Linked DNA regions of Homo sapiens: regions 2, 3, 4 and 5 are each linked to region 1. Evidence: fine-mapped expression QTL. A gene starts in region 1. Each other region holds a variant in brackets. All regions are shown on one strand. Distances are between the middles of the regions. Region 1 holds the start of TRPM6 (transient receptor potential cation channel subfamily M member 6). Region 2 overlaps TRPM6 (transient receptor potential cation channel subfamily M member 6). Region 3 overlaps TRPM6 (transient receptor potential cation channel subfamily M member 6). Region 4 overlaps TRPM6 (transient receptor potential cation channel subfamily M member 6). Region 5 overlaps TRPM6 (transient receptor potential cation channel subfamily M member 6).

The links.
Region 2: its variant is fine-mapped to the expression of TRPM6 in whole blood (TOPMed, PIP above 0.99).
Region 3: its variant is fine-mapped to the expression of TRPM6 in whole blood (INTERVAL, PIP 0.98).
Region 4: its variant is fine-mapped to the expression of TRPM6 in whole blood (TOPMed, PIP above 0.99).
Region 5: its variant is fine-mapped to the expression of TRPM6 in whole blood (INTERVAL, PIP 0.99).

What each region holds. Positions count from the first base shown.
Region 1 is chr9:74,886,246-74,890,366 of GRCh38, forward strand. TRPM6 (transient receptor potential cation channel subfamily M member 6) reads right to left here and starts at 1,676. Exons shown (of 39, transcript NM_017662.5): 1 at 1,579-1,676. The coding sequence starts at 1,611. RefSeq lists an enhancer at 768-1,062.
Region 2 is chr9:74,864,010-74,868,130 of GRCh38, forward strand. The region is part of intron 1 of TRPM6 (transient receptor potential cation channel subfamily M member 6); the gene reads right to left. Among named protein-coding and RNA genes, the nearest start is that of TRPM6, 22 kb to the right of the region's middle. The variant C/T (reference allele first, on the strand shown) is at 1,971.
Region 3 is chr9:74,805,875-74,809,995 of GRCh38, forward strand. It overlaps TRPM6 (transient receptor potential cation channel subfamily M member 6), which reads right to left. Exons shown (of 39, transcript NM_017662.5): 14 at 2,160-2,300. Among named protein-coding and RNA genes, the nearest start is that of TRPM6, 80 kb to the right of the region's middle. The variant C/T (reference allele first, on the strand shown) is at 1,815.
Region 4 is chr9:74,816,697-74,820,799 of GRCh38, forward strand. It overlaps TRPM6 (transient receptor potential cation channel subfamily M member 6), which reads right to left. Exons shown (of 39, transcript NM_017662.5): 9 at 3,608-3,731; 10 at 196-268; 11 at 1-73. Among named protein-coding and RNA genes, the nearest start is that of TRPM6, 69 kb to the right of the region's middle. The variant T/C (reference allele first, on the strand shown) is at 2,465.
Region 5 is chr9:74,855,785-74,859,905 of GRCh38, forward strand. TRPM6 (transient receptor potential cation channel subfamily M member 6) reads right to left here. Exons shown (of 39, transcript NM_017662.5): 2 at 2,885-2,964. It also overlaps the pseudogene RNU6-445P. Among named protein-coding and RNA genes, the nearest start is that of TRPM6, 30 kb to the right of the region's middle. The variant T/C (reference allele first, on the strand shown) is at 1,904.

The sequences.
Region 1 (4,121 bases):
ACCACTCCTGGTGGGAAACATAAGAAACAACCAGATTCTTAAAGTCAAGCCCAGATTCCAGTCTGGCCAAAATAGCTAACGCTTTATCAGTCCTGTAAGAACCCAAAGCAGATGACAGTGAAACATCAAAATCTGTATACAGGGGGAAAGAAATTGAATAACTCGTTTCCCACTTTAACAATTAAAGGTGATCATTTCTCCCTAGAACAAATAATCACAAATGATGTGTATGACTAGAACATCTATGTTCTCAGTGTCTTTTTTTCTCTTTTTTTTTTTTCTTTTTTATGTTCTCCGTGTCTTAAAGCACTGACCTGAGTTCAAATCTCAAATCTGCTTTTCTCCTTTGGTTTCATTTTCCTCACCTGTAAACCGGTGGAGATGGGAGAGACAGGATACTTGGACTTTATAGGATTACTGCCAGGATGAAATAGTTAAGAATCCCAAACTCTTACAACCTGCTAAATACGTCAGGCATTATTCTAAGTGCAAATGGCATGTAGCATTTCAATTCATCTTGAAACTACAAATCGTATTATCCCATTTTCCAGATGAGAAAGCCGAAGAACAGATGTTAACTCGCCCAAAATCACAGGTAGTGATGCAGCTGGGATGCTAATTCAGGCTACCTGGCTCCAGAGCATATGTTCTTATCAGAGCAGGCTGAAATGAGCTAACGTTTGCTAAGCTGCCTGGACTATTCCTGAAATACAATGTGCTCAATTATACTTATTTTTCATACACAGTGTGAGAAAGTCCAGACAAAATAGGCGAGACCAAGAAATTACCAGGATCTCCACTACTCTCCCAAGCGTCTCCAGTGCTCTCCCAACAGCCAGGAGCACCCTCCCTCTCCAAGCCCCCAGAACTTCCTGTTGCGCCATATGCCAGCGGTGGAGAGGAGCCAGCGGGGACTCCTGAGGTTGCAAGTCCGGGCGGCGCCGCGTTGGGGAAGGAAGCGGACTGCGGCGGGGCGGGTGTTTACCGTAACCGGCGCTGTCATCGCTCCGGGACTCCTGCACGGGGAACACTGGGCGCACGGGGACGCGCAGGGGCGCGGAGGGACGGCCGTCTGGGCACTTCTCCAGCCGCCTCGGAAAGCCGCGACCCCCGGCTAGTCAGCGTCCGGGTCTGAGATCTGTGCCCGTGGCAGCTCAAAACGCGCCTTCTCTCCTCCGGATTCTCAGCTCAAGCCACCTCCGAACTCCTCTCCCTCCGGCCCGGAGCGGAATCAGAGCTGCCTCCTCTCCCGGGGTGTTTCCCACCGCCCCGAGCTGAACCCCCGACCCCCGCTAGGTTTCCGCTCTGACACCACCTCCGCTATGGCCGCATCCCAGCTCTTGAAACGGGGGCTGCGGGACCTGCCCTGTAGTAGCGTACACTACCTTAGATAGGATAATCATCTTTGGGTGGAGACCAGAGAACTTGAAAGCCGGTATTTCATAAATCCTAGCTATTCTAGATCCTCGTTAGATGTAGTGTCCCTGGCCCCACCCACTTCTATCTAAGGCCGGGGGCGCAGATCTAGCGAATCGCCTAAGGTCCTTGTTCCCCGCCAGTCGAGCAGCCTGAGCTTACCTGCAAGCGCTCCAAGACAGGTTGTTCTTTCATCTTTGATTTGCAGGCCCTGCTCCCAAAGCCCTGTCTGAGCTTTTAACTGTGGAGGCAGAAACTCTGGGCTCCACCTCCACACGCTGCCTTTTACAGCCCAGTGGATCTGTCACAATACCTTTCGGCTTCAGTTACCTAACTGCCTAGAAAAGAAGGTGACTCTCAGTTTCCTTCGATAAAAGAAGAATAACGAGGATCAAATGGGATGGCCACTGTCATCACAGACATCCTTTGTAGTAATGTATTGTTACTGTTGAGTCAGTGTGGGGCGTGAGGAGATCAGAGATTTAAGCTAACGCACTGCTTTTACTACCTGTGACTTATTGGGCATGTCAAGCCTCAGTTTATTTATCTATGCAATGGGAATAATAGGGACAAAAATCCAGTTCCCTCACAAGGTTACAATGAACAAAGGAAATCACTTAATGTGCTTCATGTGTAACATACAATACAAATGTTTTGTTATTTCTGGTTTTTTTTTCATTTTTTTTGTTTGTTTTGTTTTGTTTTGGTGGATTCCTCTGGATAGGCATCTTCTCTTTCTTTCTTTCTTTCTTTCTTTCTTTCTTTCTTTCTTTCTTTCTTTCTTTCTCTCTTTCTTTCTTTCTTCTTTTTTTAGAGATGGAGTCTTGCTCTGTTGCCCAGGCTGGAGTGCAGTGGCAGGATCATGGCTCACTGCATCCTTGACCTCCCAGGCTCAAGTGATCCTTCCACTTCAGGCTCCAGAGAGTAGTTGGGACTACAGGCACACACCACAGTGCCTGGCTAATTTTATTTATTTATTTATTTATTTATTTATTTATTTATTTATTTATTTTAGAAATGGGGTCTCACTATGTTGCCCAGGCTGGTCTCAAACTCTGGACTCAAGCGATCTTCATGCCTCAGCCTTCCAGAGTGCTAGGATTACAGGCGTGAGCCACCATGCCCGGCCTAGGCAGTCTTGATTAAGGTTGTGGTCAGTGATTTGGGGTGGATCCCAGGGTGTTGGCAGAGGTGGCACAAAGCACACAGGCAAAATGATGCTCACATTATTACAAGTGTAATTAACAATGCTAGTCATTCATCCCTGACAACCGACTTAAAATTAGGGACACCTACTCATTTAGTTTATTATGAATTTTTGCCTGGTGAATTCACATTTGCAGACAGTTTACAGGTTTTTTCCCCTCATTTCTCAATGTGGTTTTAATAAGCATTTCTTTGTTTATTGGAAAATTGTAATCTCTCATATGTGTATTGGCATTTTGTTGTTTTTCTTTTTGTTGTTGTTGCTGTTGTTGTTGAGCCAGGGTCTCGCTCTGTCACCGGGCTGGAGTGCAGTGGCACTATGTCGGCTCACTGCAACCTCCACCTCCTGGGCTCAAGCAATCCTCCAGCCTCAGCCCCCGCAAGTAGCTAGGACTACATGTGCAAGCCACTACACCTGGCTAATTTTTGTAATTTTTGTAGATACGGAGTTTCACCATGTTGCCCAGGCTGGTCTCGAACTTCTGAACTCAAGCAATCCACCCACTTCAGCCTCCCTAAGTGCTAGGCATTTGTTGTTCTTCTATAAACACATTTAATCTCCTTTCCTCTCCTTAACCCATCTTCTTTAAAGCGTTAATCTGTAAACAGTTAACAGGTTCTGAAAGCTCTTCTAAGGCAAGTAAATCCTTCTCGATCTCTGTCTTCCATACAATTTCTTTGTTAGGTCTCTTACAGTGACTGGGTCAGAGAGTTCTCAGAAATCTTCAGACCCACCAAGAAGAGTAGCCATTTGGAACTCAAGATTTGTAAGAAGTCTACCATCTTCTAGTTTACCATCTTTGGTAAACCTACATGTTAGGATGATCATATATTCTTTTCAGATCAAGCTTCAAGGCATTTAGAGCCTGAAATACAAGGGCAATGTGAAGTGCTTAAAGCATTGAATGTACTAGTTTACAAGCTGCCTTTGGTTCCCAAGCTGTATCAGAAACATCTGAGGCATTTGTCAAAAGTGCAGATTCCCAGGCTCCAACCACCCTACCCAGATCTCTTGTATCAGGATTTATAGGGTGGGGCCCAGGAATCTGTATCTTTCACAAGCACTTTAATCAGTTGTCAAACTTGTATATAAAACTTCTTGTCCAGGCATGGTGGCTCATGCCTGTAATCCCAGCATTTAGGGAGGCCGAGGCAGGAGAATCACTTGAACTCATGATTTCGAGACCAGCCTGGTCAACATGGCAAAACCCCATCTGTACAAAAAAAAAAAACAAAAATTAGCCACGCGTGGTGGCTTACACTTGTGGTGCCAGCTACTTGGATGGCTGAGGTGAGAGGATTGCTTGAGCCCAGGAGGTCGGGGCTGCAGTGAGCTATGATGGCACCACTGCACTCCAGACTGGGCAACAGAGTAAGACCATATCTCAAAAAATAAATAAATAAAAAGAAAACTATTCTGGGCACAAACATACCTATGCCCAGGGTAGCTGTGAAAATTAAATTTTAAAATATTCATTAGTAGTCTAGTGTGGTTTGAT
Region 2 (4,121 bases), 22 kb before region 1:
ACAACTACTTCTTCAGTGGAACTGATAACTGACTCCGATTTTGATTTCCTGCATTCTCTCTTACACACATCACAGCACTAACAATGTTTACTTGCATTCACTGGACCATCTCTCTCTCTCTCTTAACCTTATTGTAATCCACTTCAAAAGAGAGCATTATTTTATTTATCTTGGAATTCACAACACTAGAATGGGTCAAATAGACAATATTTTCAGACTCCAGATCAACATTTGTTATTTTTTCTTCAGAGTGCCTCCCTTGAAGCAAGAATCCCTTCAAAGTGCCAGGTAGATGGACATCAGGATGTACCATCAATCAATCTGTTGGCTCAGGGAATCCATCAGTGCAAAGCCAGCCCATCCACTTTCAAGTGTCAGCTCAGGGCCTTCTATCTGTCCAAATTCTGCAAGGATACCTACCTGACACTTGATCCGAGAGGGGCAGTCTCAGAAAAACAGCATCCAGGCTAAAAATATCTAAAAACCAAGTTCCTGTTCCACCAACACTACCAGAAAGTGTGTTGACTGATTTTCCACTAAATAGTCTGTCCAGGAGGCAGAGAACACAAAGTAACCTTACACCTTCATCTCACTTTGGTGGTAAAAGGTGAGCACTATTTAGCTGGTAGTAATTTATTTTTGGTAACATCTCTAAAAATTGAATGTCAACTAAATAATTCACAATTCCCTAAAACGCCATTTCTCCTGAGTAGTTGAGAAATTTTACTAACATTTTCACATAGTGCTTTGCTAAGCAAAGGCATTTAGAACCTTGGAATGAGGCCTGGTGCAGTGGCTCATGCCTGAATCCCTGTACTTTGGGAGGCTGAGGTGGGTGGATCACCTGAGGTCAGGAGTTCGAGACCAGCCTGGCCAACATGATGAAACCCTGTCTCTACTAAAAATACAAAAAATTAGCCACGCGCAGTCGTGGGCGCCTGTAATCCCAGCTACTCAGGAGGCTGAGGCAAGAGAATCGCTTGAACCCAGGAGGTGGAAGTTGCAGTGGGCTGAGATCGTGCCACTGCACTCCAGCCTGGGCAATGAGAGAGAAATTCCCTCTCAAAAAAAAAAAAAAAATGGAACGTCAGAATGAATTTCTAGATTATATAAACTCAAGAGTTAAGGAGTAAAACATTTATAAATCTTCCTGGAGCCAAATAGGGGATTAGAGGAACTCAACAGTAACCTTCCAAGTAAAGTGCATCAGAAAGGTGAAAAGTGAAGTGATATCATACCCCTTCCTTCCTCTTTCCAAATTGGTTGAAGCCCTCATTATTTCAGCCCCAAAACCCAATTTCAAAATAGCAGCGAAAGACATCCTTTTCCTCAGTTGTCACTCACGCTTCAGGGTTTAACCAGTCTCCTGGGGAATAAAACATGCAAATGAAACATTTATAATTTCAGATCTTGTTAAATCATTCTGATAAAAAGGGAAGAGGAAATGGAAGTCTCCTTTATGAGTGTACTTTACAACTGTCCCTCGATAGTAAAATACAGAGATTTAACCAAATGCTGGGCCTATTTGTAGTACAACCACTCTAATCTGGTTAGATTTTCCACCTACATGCACTCAATTCTCTCCAATTTCCAAGCTCCAAAATGCTCACAAATTTGTTATCTATGTACACAGATGGTCTTCATTTATGCTCCAAATATCTTGTTAAATTATCCAAAACTTTACTAGTACTACATGCAAATAAACTACATGACCTAAAATAAAGTCTTTTTTGGAGTGGCTCATGAAACTATGCTTTTATTTTTGTTTTAATACAGAGTCTTGCTATGTTGCCCAGGCTGAAGTGCAGTGGCTATTCACAGGCGTGATCACAGCACACTGTGGCCTTGAACTCCTAGGATCAAGTGATATTCCTGCCTCAGCCCCCTGAGAATCTGGGACTACAGATATGTACCACCATGACTGGGGAAAATATACTGTTAAATAATTGACTTTTAGGAAACTTACCAAC[C/T]TCTCAGACAATAAAGCCTTTATTAGAAGTTACATGTTTGGCCAGGCATGGTGGCTCACGCCTAGAATCCCAGCACTTTGGGAGGCCATGGCTAGAGAATCATTGAGCCCAGGAGATCAAGGCCAGCCTGGGCAACATATCGAGACCCCGTGTCTACGTCCAATAATATAAAAAATAGAAACATTTTTAAAAAGAAGTTACAGGTTAAATTTTATTTATGACATTCATAGTAAGGTTTATATAGACAATGGAGATTATTTGTCTTATTTTTTTCAGTATAGCACAGCACAAAGAAGACACAACTGGATTTTGCTCCTTAAAATTTGGGGGACACTCATACCACGTGTGTAACTTAGACAAATTCAAAAGCTTTGCTAAAAGAATGAGAGAAGGCTAGAAGGTGAAAAATAAGACAGAGAGAAAAACAGTTTTAATAGTGTGGGCAGTTTCACTGTCATTCCACTATCAGTAGGTTTGATTTTTTTGGGGGGGTTTTTTGTTTTTTGTTTTTTTGTTTTTGAGACAGAGTTTCACTCTTGTTGCCCAGGCTAGAGTGCAATGGCGTGATCTCGGCTCACTGCAACCTCAACCTCCCAGATTCAAGCGATTCTCCTGCCTCAGCCTCTTGAGTAGCTGGGATTACAGGCATGCCCCACCACACCCGGCTAATTTTGTATTTTCAGTAGAGACAGGGTTTTACCATGTTGGCCAGGCTGGTCTTGAACTCCTGACCTCAGGTGATACACCCACCTCAGTCTCCCAAAGTGCAGGGATTACAGGCGTGAGCCACCGCATCCAGCCTCAGGAGTATCTTATTTCCAAAAGCAGCAGTTCTGAAACTTCTTGAGCTTAGGATCCTTTCATAATCATAAAAACTACCAAGTACTCCAAAAAGTATTTTGTTTATTTAAATTATGTCTACCAATATTTACCACATATGAAATTAAAACTGAGACATTTAAAAATATTTACTTATTAGTTCATTTTAACCTGTTACATGCTAACACAAAAATTTTCCAAAAAAGTTCATAAACAGAGCACTGTCTTATGTTTTTGCAAATCTCTTTCATGTCTGGCTAAAGATGGCTAAATTCTCATGTTTGCTTCTGCACTCAATCCTTTGCAATAAGTGGTTTTGCTTGAAGTATACAAAGAAAATCTGCCTCACAGAGACATGTAGTTGAAAAGGGAGAGTATTTTAATGGCCTTTTTAGATCATTGTGTATTCATCATGTACCCTTGGGAAAACTCCACTGTACACTCATGAGAAAATATGTCAAAAGGGCAAATAGCATCTTAGTACCATTATGAAAATAATTTTGACTCTGAGGACCCTCTGAAAAGGTCTTAGAGACCTCTAGGAGTCCTTGGACCACATACAGAGAACTACTGCACACAAGTGACTGTGTGTAGACACTAGAGTGGAGTCTGTGAGAGCAAGAATATACCATTCCCCAGATGGTCTCAGTTCCCACATGCATATCTTAGTCTGCATACCTCATCTTAATGAGTAGATTCTAGATCCCCTGTTTAATCTGGTACTCAACTGAAGAAAGTTCCAACACAAGATAAAATCTTCATGTACTGTATTTTATGCTCAATGAAAGGGACTTTTCAAGGGTAGTTTGGAATGCATTCAATTTCTAAACTTACAGCCAACTTTAATGCCTACCACACCCACCCTCCAGAAGATGTCGTTAAATTCAGTGACCTTGGGAAGCTTGCGAAGTGTGGAACCAGCCCTTTACAATCCATAGGCAGGATACATCCTATCAGTTTATCCACCTCTTTTAAAACATTGAAACCTCGAAAGGAAGAAACAAATGAAAAGAAAAATTGATACCTCTAAGAATAATAGGTTTATTCATTCATTTAAAAAAAAATACTTTGATGGCCAGACGCAGTGGCTCACGCCTGTAATCCCAGCACTTTGGGAGGCCGATGCACAGGGTCACGTGAGGTCAGGAGTTCCAGACCAGCCTGGCCAACATGGCGAAACCCCAACTCTATTAAAAACAAAAAAAATTAGCTGGGCATGGTGGCACAGGCCTGTAATCCCAGCTACTCAGGAGGCTGAGGCAGGAGAATCACTTGAATCCGGGAGACAGAGGTTGCAGTAGGCTGAGATTGCACCCCTGTACTCCAGCCTGA
Region 3 (4,121 bases), 80 kb before region 1:
TTAGACCAGTTCAGAAAAGCTGGAACTGCTTAAATTGAAACCCTCACAGCTGAATCAGAAAGCATTGTGAATGTTGATTGGATATTTCATTATATTAAGGAATTATTCATTGATTATATTAAGGAATTATTCATTTTTTATGTATGATAATGGCATCATAATTACATTTTCCTAAGTACATTTCATTTAGAGATATTCACAAGAATTTATGAATGAAATGATATGATGTAAGATTTGATCTTAAATAATCTGGGGGCAGGAGGTTGGCCATTGTTGCTATTATTGAAACTGAGTGATAGGTACATGTGGATTCATTATACTATTCTCTATTTTTGTATGTTTAAAATTTTCCATTAAAAAATACAACTGAGAAAAAAAAACCATAGGCTTTTTAAAAATTTATTGTATTTATTTATTTATTTATTTATTTATTTAGAGACTGGATCTCACCGTGTTGCCCAGGCTGGTCTCGAATTCCTGGGCTCAAGCAATCCTCCTGCCTTGGCCTCCCAAAGTCTTGGGATTACAGGCGTGAGCCACCATGCCCAGCCCAAACTACAGGCTTTGAACTGCTTTATTTAAGTTTCTGTTTTGTTGATAAAAATTGAACATAGAAATGATGAGGTGAAGACTTTTTAAAGGCAACACCCAAATTATTATTACTATTGTAATATGAATTAATAGTGTCATTATAGTAATTATCATAATGACCATTATTACTAACGATGACTCTGCACCCTCTGTGTATCAGGAACATGGATTTTTCATATATTATTTAATCCTTCTGACAAATTTATAAAAGGGTCATTACTATTCCCATTTATAGATGAGAAAACATGCACAGAGAAGTTAAGCTTATTGTTCAAGATTACACAGCTACTAAAGAGCAAAATTGGAGGCAGTCCTAGCCAGATGTCTCTTGACTCCAAAATCATGTGCTTGTAACTACTACAGTCTAGTTTAATATGACACACAATAAACTCTGCACTCCACTGGAAGACAATCCAAGAAATGGGTGACTTCGTACTGGCAGGCCATTTAAAGAAAGGGCACTAAGGGAACTTCCCTAGCAAGCTCCACACTGGGCTGCACCAGCGCCACAGTCAGTCCTCCTACTTGTCACTGGGAACCTCACAGCAATGTCTGTTCTGTTTAAATGAAGTAGCTGATACCTCCTTAAGTGTATCCTTATGCCTTTGAAATCTTAATAGAGAACATTTTTCTGTGTCAGATTTGGCTTTCCTGTTTTGCTTTTTCATTTCTGAAAGCCAAGCTGGGCTTTCACGTCACTTGATTCTTTATAAAGGATCCCAAGTAGCTTGATATTCTAGGCTGTTTATGGAATCTTACCCCAAACTGCCTTTCCAGTCTCCTCCCTTAAAACCATATGACACTGATTCTCCAGCAACAAAGGTCTCCTTGTCACAGCAGAAACATACCTGAATATCCAAAGGCTGTGCCCTTTACTGCTCCTTCTCTTCTCTCAACAAAAATACCCAAAACTACATTTTCTAATCCTCCCCTCATCTTCTAATAAGAATGAGTCTCCTCAGGTTGCTAATCCATAATGGCAATTTCAAGAAATAGGCAATGTTTCCTCTGCTAACTACTAACCAACAACTCTAATTTTACATTCCTAGATTCTCAAAACTATCATGGAAAATAAAATATGTATCACTTATGTTTTTAAGGATATTCTACACGCATCTTTCAATATAATCACTACATGCTTATACCAAGTTTGTTATCTCCAGACTATGGACTAGGATGAGTTTACATATCTAATCTGATTAAGCTTTTGATATCAGTATTTT[C/T]GGAAGAAAAAAAGAAAAGAAAAAAAAAGAACTAGTCATCTCTCCCTCTAACCTGCCTCATCACATTATTTCTATGTCACTATAGCATGTATTATATACTGTTTTGTATTATGGCTAGTTACTCATAAATCTGTTTAAGAGTTTCTAAACTTCTGATCCTTACGCATCCCAAGCCAACACTGCAACACTTAGTACAGTATACTTCACATACAGCAGATAACAAATGTCCATAAATAAAATGACCATTTTAGGAGCTATTTTTGTCTGAACTTCCAAGGCCATTTTTCCAAAACAACAATTCCTAATCATTCTCAATTTTACTTGGGCACTTTTCAATTACTCTACCTTGTATTTTCTGTAGAGGTTGTTGTAGAGGGCTCTGAAATGTTTTCTAGTGTAGTTGCTGCGATATGCTCTACCAATGAGGTATTCTACTACTAATCCAATGTCAATCAAGGTTATTCGGTAGCCTGAAAGAAGGGTATGCTGCAACAAAAACATGCAACGACTTTTAACTTTTAGTTATCTTCTTTCATTTCTCTTGCCATGCCATTAGAACATAATCAAATTAATTGCAAGAAGGTAGACATACCTTTTAAATATCTTTACAAACTGATTAATTTAAGTGACCAGCCATTGATACAATCTGCTAGTTCAGAAGGAAAAATATCTTAGCCTTAATGTTTTCTCATTTCATAGACATTAAATGTGTGCTTCCATCTATGCGTGCTCTCTCTCTCTTACTCTTGCTCTCACTCTCCTTATCATGCACACAAACATATATACACACACGTTTGAGTAAAATACATTTAAATATTTTTTATTCCATATTGAGTTCCTAATTGGAAGAGAAAAATATTAAACAAGTAGAAAAACAAATAAATATGTATATAGAGAGTTTTTTAACTAGAAATAATATAGCTACTCCAACAGAAGTAAAATCTTAAAGTCTACACTGAATGTGTGTGATCCAAAATTAACATTGGGTTAGCTTTTCAGCTTCTCTCTTTGTTGAAATGGATATAACACTTTGCACTGCGTTGACTACATCATATGTAAAACAAGAATATGGGAGGAAGTAGAACAAATGAAAACAAGGAATATAGAATGACAAAGTCAAATTCAATACCAAAACATGAGGCTTATGCAGCCACGTTCTTCCTTGAATTGAACTTAATCCAGTATAGACAGTATAGTGTTTTCTATATTTCAGGGCATATTTGGGGGTCTTTGTGTCTATAATCCACTTTGCCTATGGTCCAAAATCCCACAGGATATATTACAAGGGTATTGAAGTTGTCAGCTTGCATGTCTGTCTTCCTTTACAGACTATGTGAAAGGGTCTGTCTTTGTCTACCCAGAGTTTAGCATATGCACTTGGCCAAGCTGAGTAACTATCTGAAACTCCATACAGGCATACCTTAGAGATATTGCGGGTTCAGTTCGAGACCACCACAATAAAGAGAATATTGCAATAAAGCAAAACAAACAAACAAAACCATGAGGCTGTGCCAAGACAAGTGTTATGATTGGTTGGCAGGAGGGCTGAGTGGTAGATTTCCAAGTATGTGGGTCTTAGTCTAAATGAAAATTATTTTGACTACTTAAATTGCACCTTACTACCTCTTCATAACTGTTCACTTTTAAACTGCCCATTTATAGTAAATTTTTAAAGGCACACAGAGTGTTGAACAAGGTCTCCGAAATGAAGATTGTGACTAATATTCACAAAGCTTGGAACAAGAAATAAGGTTATATATGAATGAATGTAAATAATTTAATTTTTCTTTTTCACATGCATAATTTACTTTTTTCAAGGAATGCCAAAAGTAATGCTCTTATTGCTGCTAGTTAGAACATATTTAACCTAGTTCATCACTTTTTTTCAGTTTACTGTGGCACAGTTTAAAAAAAATAAATAAAATCATTTTTATATTGCATAAATCAATACAAACTAAATTTACATGAGCACGGACACTTTTGCTTACTGCTAATTTGCCAAGGAATAGGTGGAGCACGATGGACCATGCCTGTAATCCCAGCACTTTGGGAGACCAAGGCGGGTGGATCACCTGCGGTCAGGAGTTCGAGACCAGCCTGGCCAACATGGTGAAACCCCACGTCTACCAAAAATACAGAAAAGTTGCCGGGTGTGGTGGCAGGCATCTGTAGTCCCAGCTATTCAGGAGGCTGAGGCAGGAGAATCACTTGAACCAAGAGGCGGAGGTTGCAGTGAGCCAAGATCCCATCATTGCACTCCAGCCTGGGCAAGAGCAAAACTCCATCTCAAAAAAAAAAAAAAAAAAA
Region 4 (4,103 bases), 70 kb before region 1:
TGTTTCTTGGCAATGTCCACCCTGTCCCAAGCCATTGCCAGATTTAATTGCTCTGACGCTGATAAATTTGTGCCTAGGGTAAAAGAAAGGAACAATCATATATTCTTTTCAAGATATCTACGCAAGAAGCACAAAGTACTGTGGAACATGAGAAGCGTAAATGAGGAACAATTGCAACCCCATCCAGATACTCACCCTTCAGCAAAGCTGTTAGGATTGCTAAGTCCAGGTCTTGCTGCTCTTCAGAGTCAGCATCAAATATGGTAATCTACAACAGTGAAAAACAGAGAGCCATACATTTGGGGAACTACCAAATAAATGCTTTCAAAGAGTACCCACAGAATTCAGACTGGAGCTAATGAATTGAGGAAAACATTCTTCTTTAAAACCTTTTTTTACTTACAGGAGAGAAAACTTTTAAATAGGGTAACAAAGAATTATGGGCACTTGGGGGGGAAAAAACTAAAAATTCCACATATCCAGAGGAAACATTTATGAAAGAATGTTATTACATGAATTTACTATGTACATGCTACAACAAAAAGAACCTCAATGTTAATTTCTGATGTAAATAAAATCATGTCTCCTTTCAAAGAGACAACGAATGAAATCCTTCATTCACCTAGCCTTGGAAACTAAGACTTTTGCTTTTTTTTCTCTTTTCTTAATTTTTTGTAGAGACAAGGTCTCACTATATTGCCCAAGCTGGTCTTGAATTTCCTGGGCTCAGGCGATCCTCCGGTCTCAGCCTCCCAAAGTGCTGGGATTACAGGCGAGTCACCACGCCCAGCCAGACTTGCTTTTTTACGAGAAATGAATCCTCAAGGGTTTGTCATAAAATAACTGAGGTAATTACAGTGGACCCAATGAGCAAGTACCCTGGGCAACACAGACGGTCTTTGACTCTTTTAAAGACAAGTAAGTTCGTTACTTATGGTTCCAAAGGGTCACCTATGGGCCCTTGAGGCACTTGCTCACCCGTTCCCACCCTGTGGGGTGTGCTTTCATTTTCAATAAATCTCTGCTTTTGTTGCTTCAAAAAAAGGGGGGGGGAGTCACCTGTTATTAATGGCTATATCTCAGTCTTTTTAAATTAAAATACATTTCATATAGTAGAAGGAGCTATTTTAATGAAAAAGCCAAGATTGGCAAGACCTAGTCCCAAGTATGCCACTAACAAGCTAGTCCTAGGTAAATATCTTGAGGCTGCTGCTGAATCTCAGGCTCCTCATCCATAAAATGAGAGGAACCTGTTGAATAATCTCTAAGGTATCATAAAGATAAAAAACTATGCTTCTATAACTTCACACATTGTTTCCTTTCACCTGACACGCCCTCTATGTGCACGAATAAAATCAGTCCTCAATTGTACAACCCAATTCCTATCACCTGCAAGCCCTTTGCTGCCTTCTCTTGACCCTCTTGGTCATTACATTGCTTATTAATTATTCTGCTTGATGGCAAGAAGAGGCAAACATAAGGGCAATCCCTTTACCTGTCCTTTTCTTAACTTACTGATTACTGTGGCAAATAGAAAGTGCAATAGACTAAGAAGATTTCAACTCTTCTGAAACTCACGTTTCAGATCTATCATTTCTTTTTTTTTTTTTTTTTTTTTTTTTTGAGACAGGGTTTTGCTCTTGTTGCCCAGGCTGGAGTGCAATGGTGCGATTTCGGCTCACCGCAACCTCTGCCTCCCGGGTTCAAGCGATTCTCCTGCCTAAGCCTCCCAAGTAGCTGGGATTATAGGCACCCGCCACTATGCCTGGCTAATTTTTGCATTTTTGGTAGAGACAGGGTTTCACCATGTTGGCCAGGCTGGTCTCAAACTCCTGATGTCAGGTGATCCACCCACTTCGGCCTCCCAAAGTGCTGGGATTATAGGCGTGAGCCAACGTGTCCGAGCATATCTGTCATTTCTTAACTGCATGACTGCAAATCCCTTAAATTCTCTAGCCTTCTGCTTCATCATTTCCAAACTGGAAATAACCACTGCCATACTGAACTCACTCACAGGGCTATTTCAAATGAAAAGAATACATTTAGAAGCATGCTGCTAATTAGAAACATGGTTGCTATTATTGTTGTTATTGGGCCAACTAAAACCCCAAAGAGTTTTCCACATAGATTTCGTCATGCTTCCTCTAGCCAGAACACTTCAGTTGGTTTTTTTTTTTGAGGCCAGGTACTCAAATATTACCAAAATTCTTATACAATTTGCTCCAGCCTTCAGATTCTAGAAAGATCACCTTGAATCATGACATATCTGTATATTTACTGTAATTGTCAGCTTCATATCATCTGAGTCATTGATATGAATTGATAATTCAGCCGGGCACAGTGGCTTATGCCTGCAATCCCAGAACTTTGGGAGGCCGAGACAGGCAGATCGCTTGAGGCCAGGAGTTCGAGACCAGCTTGGCCAACATGGTGAAACCCCATCTCTACCAAAAAATACAAAAAT[T/C]AGCCAGGCATGGTGGCATGCACCTGTAGTCCAAGCTACTCAGGAGGCTGAAGCATGAGAATCACTTGAGCCTAGGAGGTGGAGGTTGCAGCGAGCCAAGATCTCGCCACTGCACTCCAGCCTAGGTGACAGAGTGAGGCCCTGTCTCAAAAAAAAAAAAAAGAATTGATAATTCATATCATCCAAGTCATTTTGTTCATAGGCTGGCCATGGTGGCTCATGCCTATAATCCCAGCACTTTAGGAGACCAAGGCAAGAGGATCACTTGAGCCCAGAAATTCAAGGCTGCAGTGAGCTATGACTGCACCACTGCATTCCAGCCTGGGCAAAAGAGCAAGACCTTGTCTTTACCAAATAAATTAATTAAATAAATTAATCTTTTTATCACAGTACCCTAAAACACTAAAAACTTTTCCTGAGTCTACATTATGGTAATAGCCCATAGTTTGTGGGCTCCATTTTTTATCCCAGAGTTTATTCTCACTTTTCCCATTGTCCAGTACATTCCCAATGATTTCCTGCAGGATTTACTCAGGACGCTGTGAGGCAGTCATGTAACTCAGCACCATGAAGCTGTGTTCATTGAAGACATGGAGCTGTTCCTTTACCCTCTGAAAATACTTCTGTGTAATTTTCACTAAATCTGATAACTTTTCTGGAACATTGTTATACTAAGTGCTTTTTCTGTAGTAGAGTCTAGTATTTGAAGCATGGAGAGTGCGGACAGCAGTGACAGCAAGAAGTCAAGTTTACTCAACGAAGAATCAAATTCTGTAGAGCTAGATACACTCAAAATCAAAATGAAAAATCCACATTTTTTATTTTTTATTATTTTAATTTTAAATAATTTTACTTTATTTTAAGTTCTGGGATACATGTGCAGGATGTGCAGGTTTGTTACACAGGTAAATGTGTGCCATGGTGGTTTGCTGCACCTATCAACCCATCACTTAGGTATTAAGATCTCCATGCATTAGCTATTTATCCTGATTTTCTCCCTCCCCCCTCCACCCTGACAGGCCCCTGTATGTTGTTCCCCTTCCTGTGTCCACCATGTTTTTTTTTAATTGTGAAAATAAATATTACAGTGTTTATAAATTAGCAGTTCTTAAGTCAGTTGAATCATCAACTCGTCATACTCACACAATCCCTGTGAACCATACACTCCATTAGAATTTGGAAAAGGTGCTTGGACTGTTTAAGACTAAAGTTGAAAGTGTTCTGAATCATGCAGATGATCTCCTCTTTCACCTGAGGTCGCAGCATCCTGGAAGAGAAATAAATGGTCTTGACACAACCCAGAGAGGGGAATGAGCCGGCAACATCAGTACAAGAAAACACCCCATCAGCTCCCCAGACTGAAAAGGTGTCTATGGACAGTTCTGCCAGAAGAGCAAATGAGGGGGAGCAAACGGAAGCAGGAGCTCAAGAAGAAAGCTGAATTTGAAAGTGGGAATGGAGCCGGGCATGATGGCTCACACCTGTAATCCCAGCACTTTGGGAGTCCCAGGTGGAGGATCACTTGAGGCCAGGAGTTCGAGGCCAGCCTGGGCAAAATAGCAAGACCCTGCCTCTATTTTTACATTTATAAAAGAAGAAAGAAAGTGAGAATGGGTTGATCTGCCACATCCTGAAAAGA
Region 5 (4,121 bases), 30 kb before region 1:
CCTCAATTTAAATCTCATTGATTTAACAATTACTCTAAGCCCCAGTTTTTATATCTGAAAATAATATCTGCTTCATAAGGTTATTAAAATAATTATCAGAGATAATAATATGTAATGTGTCTTATGGTACCTGGTAAAGACAGTGTGTACAATAATGGTAGCTACTATTATTATTAAACTATGAAGATAACACAGATTTCTTGAGAATCAAGAAAATAGATATATGTAAACCACTTTAAAACCATAAAGCACTATCAAATAAGGGACATTTGGTATAATTACAAATTATCCTTTATTAATCTTTCTTTTTTATTATTCAGAAGAACCTTATAGATTTAGGGGTTAGCACTGTTGTCATCAGTTATATTTTTGGGCCAGGCACAGTGGCTTATGCCTGTAATCCCAGCACTTTGTGAGGCTGAGGTGAGAGGATTGCTTGAGTTCAGGAGTCCAAGACTAGCCTGGGCAACATAATGAGACCTTGACTCTTATAAAAATTCAAAAAATTAGCCCTGTGTGCTGATATGTGCCTGTGGTCCCAGCTACTTGGGAGGCTAAGATGGGAGGGTTGTTTGAGTCCAGGAGGTCGAGGCTTCAGTAAGCCAAGATCATGCCACTGTACTGCAACGTGGGGGACACAGCAAGATCCTGTCTCAAAATATGTGTGTGTGTGTGTGTGTGTCTGTGTGTGTGTGTGTGTGTGTGAAGAAGTATTAACAGGGAAGTCTAGTTAAAATAATGGAAGAAAAGGTAATGTTCCTAAAATAAGGGCCGCTCTAAGTTATTCAGAAACTAATATTCAGGACTTTTATTTCTTCCTGTCCCAGCCTTTTGGGAATGCCTTTTCTCAGAAGCTTTCCTTCAACAGTAAATTGAAAATGAGAAGGAAAAAGATGTTATAATCAAGTGTATCAGATTTGTTTCTTATTGGGAGCTACAAAAATAATAAAACAAACTTTTATCGATATTTTAAAAAGTGAATTATCACCCACTTCCTGTGCACCAATAATGAAGAAAACTGCAAAAAAGCCTCAATTCTGAGAATTTTACTAGGATCTAAAAAAAAGGCTGGCTAGAAGAAATAGCCATAATCATACCTTAACTTTTATCTACAATCCCACAATATAGAGACAGTTTTTTCACTTGCTAAAAGTACATCATGCCTTGGAACATTCATGGAATTACAATCGTTGATACTCTTCTTGAGTCTATGGGCTAGTAAAAGACTCAGTAATTTCATCACTTTTTTTTTGAGATTCAAGATTATTGTAAAAATGATTTTTTTATTCACAGACACAAAATGAGCCACCTGAATCAACTTGCATTCCATTGCAGTCACCACCACATGATGTCATAAAAAATGAAGGGGAAAAACAAGGTTATCTTGGCATACTATAAACCTTTCTTAAGCAGGTAAAAAGAGAATTTCCAATCACAAGACTTACAAATCATAGGTAATTCAATAAGGGTGGGACTAGTAAATATTTAACAAAGGCAAAGAACACTATTTCAGTCATCTCCAAAGAACTAGAATTTCAAAAACCTTACCTTGCTACCCTTCATAACACATAGTTATGAGTTCTAAACCTTAAAGGCATATAAGGACAAATGCCCAAAAAAATCTAAAAATAGGTTGGTTCCTTTACTTAAAATATTACTCTTCTATTTTCCTTTTAATTAATTTTTCCAAGGGCAATGTCAATCTTAATTTCACAGACCTGATTACCCAGAGGAATTTTCCATAGCCCTTTCTTCCCCTATCTTTCACTAGTTGCTTTTTTGACCTTTGTTTTACAAGTAGAGCTTCCAAAGCATTGTCAAGAACTCAGTAGTCAAACTCAAATTATTCCATTCTGCTACCGATTATCTGCTCAATCCAAAAGCCTATGGGCGCTCACTTCGG[T/C]AGCACACATATTAAAATTGGAATGATACAGAGAAGATTAGCATGGCCCCTGCTCAAGGATGACATGCAAATTCATAAAGCATTCCATAAAAATAAAGTCTATGGAAGGAAAACGGAACTGAAATTACCTGTTCATCTAATCTGGGCACAGTGTACTTAAATATACCAGTCACTATTTTCCACAGATACTTTAGTTGGGGATAAGAAACATTCACAATATTTTGAATATTCAGTATTCAGAAAATGTAATTTATTGATTCCAACCCACTGAAATGGATGTAACACTAGATATTTCTGTAACGTCTATCCTCCCATCAAGAGGAACAGAAGAATCAAGTAGAATGAAATCCACGACAATATTAACAGTGACGGCATTAAGAATAACTTCTTTGTACTTCATTAAATTCCTTAAACAGATATTTATCGCTCGGTGGCTCACGCCTGTAATCCCAGCACTTTGGGAGGCCGAGGTGGGTGGATCACGAGGTCAGGAGATTGAGACCATCCTGGCTAACACGGTGAAACCCTGTCTCTACTAAAAATACTAAAATTAGCCGGACGTGGTGGCAGGTGCCTGTAATCCCAGCTACTCGGGAGGTTGAGGCAGGAGAATCACTTGAACCCAGGAGGTGGAGGTTGCAGTGAGCTGAGATTGCGCCACTGCACTCCAGCCTGGAGGACAAGAGCGAGACTTCGTCTCAAAAAAACAAAAACACAGATATTTATCAAGAGCCTACTATGTGGCAGGCACTGTCACAGACACTGGAGTAAGAGTAAGGTAAAAATGGACAAGGTCCCTGTTCTTCCCAGATTTTCTACAATAATCATGTATTATTTTTATAAAGTGAAAGAAATAAACATTGAAAATTCTAACTTTATAGATATGATCAAAACTTCTAAACAAGTCATATTTCTAAGTTTCTATAAATAGTCCATCAGGTAGTGTTGCTTTTAAAAGAAGAAGGTAATTGAAAATTTTACCTGTGAGGATTTTTTGAGCTGGGTATGATTGTGCTACATTCTCTCTTGTCAAATACTCCTTTAATCCAGGATTTCTGGGACTAAAAAGAAAGTGTCATTATTTTATACTCTAATTATGTGACAAAACAATGTAACCATAGTAGTTCCTGCAGGTAAGAAATACTCAAGTATCATGAATGCTAATTAAAATGCCAAGACCAACCCCACACAGGCTAAGCATTTACCAGTTTCTATTACAGATAACATAGGCACAAATAAGCCAAATGTGAACATTAAACGACACGCAAAGTGAATATGCCCATAATCTCACTTTGAGTAACAAAAGCCCTACATGAACAAACCCCTAGCAAGGAAGTAAAGATGTAACTGATATATCCTCTTAAATCTGCCAAAAGTCACTTTTATATCTTGTACCATAATCCTATGGAATAAATACCAAGCTCCCGAAACTTCAAAATTTTTACCCATCAAGTCCCACTTTGGCTAAGATTTCACAGGAAGCTGGAAAGAGTGTCAGAGAAGAGATGTGACTCAGCAAGATTCGATACACATTCTGCAAGCATAGTTTTACCATTGGGTGTGTTGTTTCAGGTTGCACAGCCTAGAACTGTCCCTAAATCCAAGTGAGATGTTGATACTCACTCTTCCTCCTAATAAACTCTCTCCCATTCTACAGAATCCATATCATAGCCAAGCTCCTCCATAAGCTATATTACAAGTCCAGTGGCAGAGGACACTGGATGGACTATACATCCCAGCTACTTGTGAGTAGTTCTAATATAAAAATATTTTGGCTGTAAATGGTATAAGAATACGTGTCCTAGCTGGGCGTGGTGGCTCATGCCTGTAATCCCAACACTTTGGGAGGCCAAGGCGGGTGGACCACTTGAAGTCAGGAGTTCGAGACCAGCCTGGCCATCATGGTGAAACCCCGTCTCTACTAAAAATACAAAAAATTAGCTGGGCATGGTGGCAGGCAACTATAATCCCAGCTACTCAGGAGGCTGAGGCATGAGAATCGCTTGAACCTGGCAGGCAGAGATTGCAGTGAGCCGAGATTGCACCACTGCACTCTGGCCTGGGTGGCAGAGCGAGACTCTGTCTCAAAAAAAAAAAAAAAAGAATATGTGTCCATATTACTTTATACACACATAGATATTAGAACAGAGATGAAAGGAAGGCTTTCTAAAAGGGAGCTTTTTCAAACTCCACGTCAGTGCAGTCCCCACCTCACTCA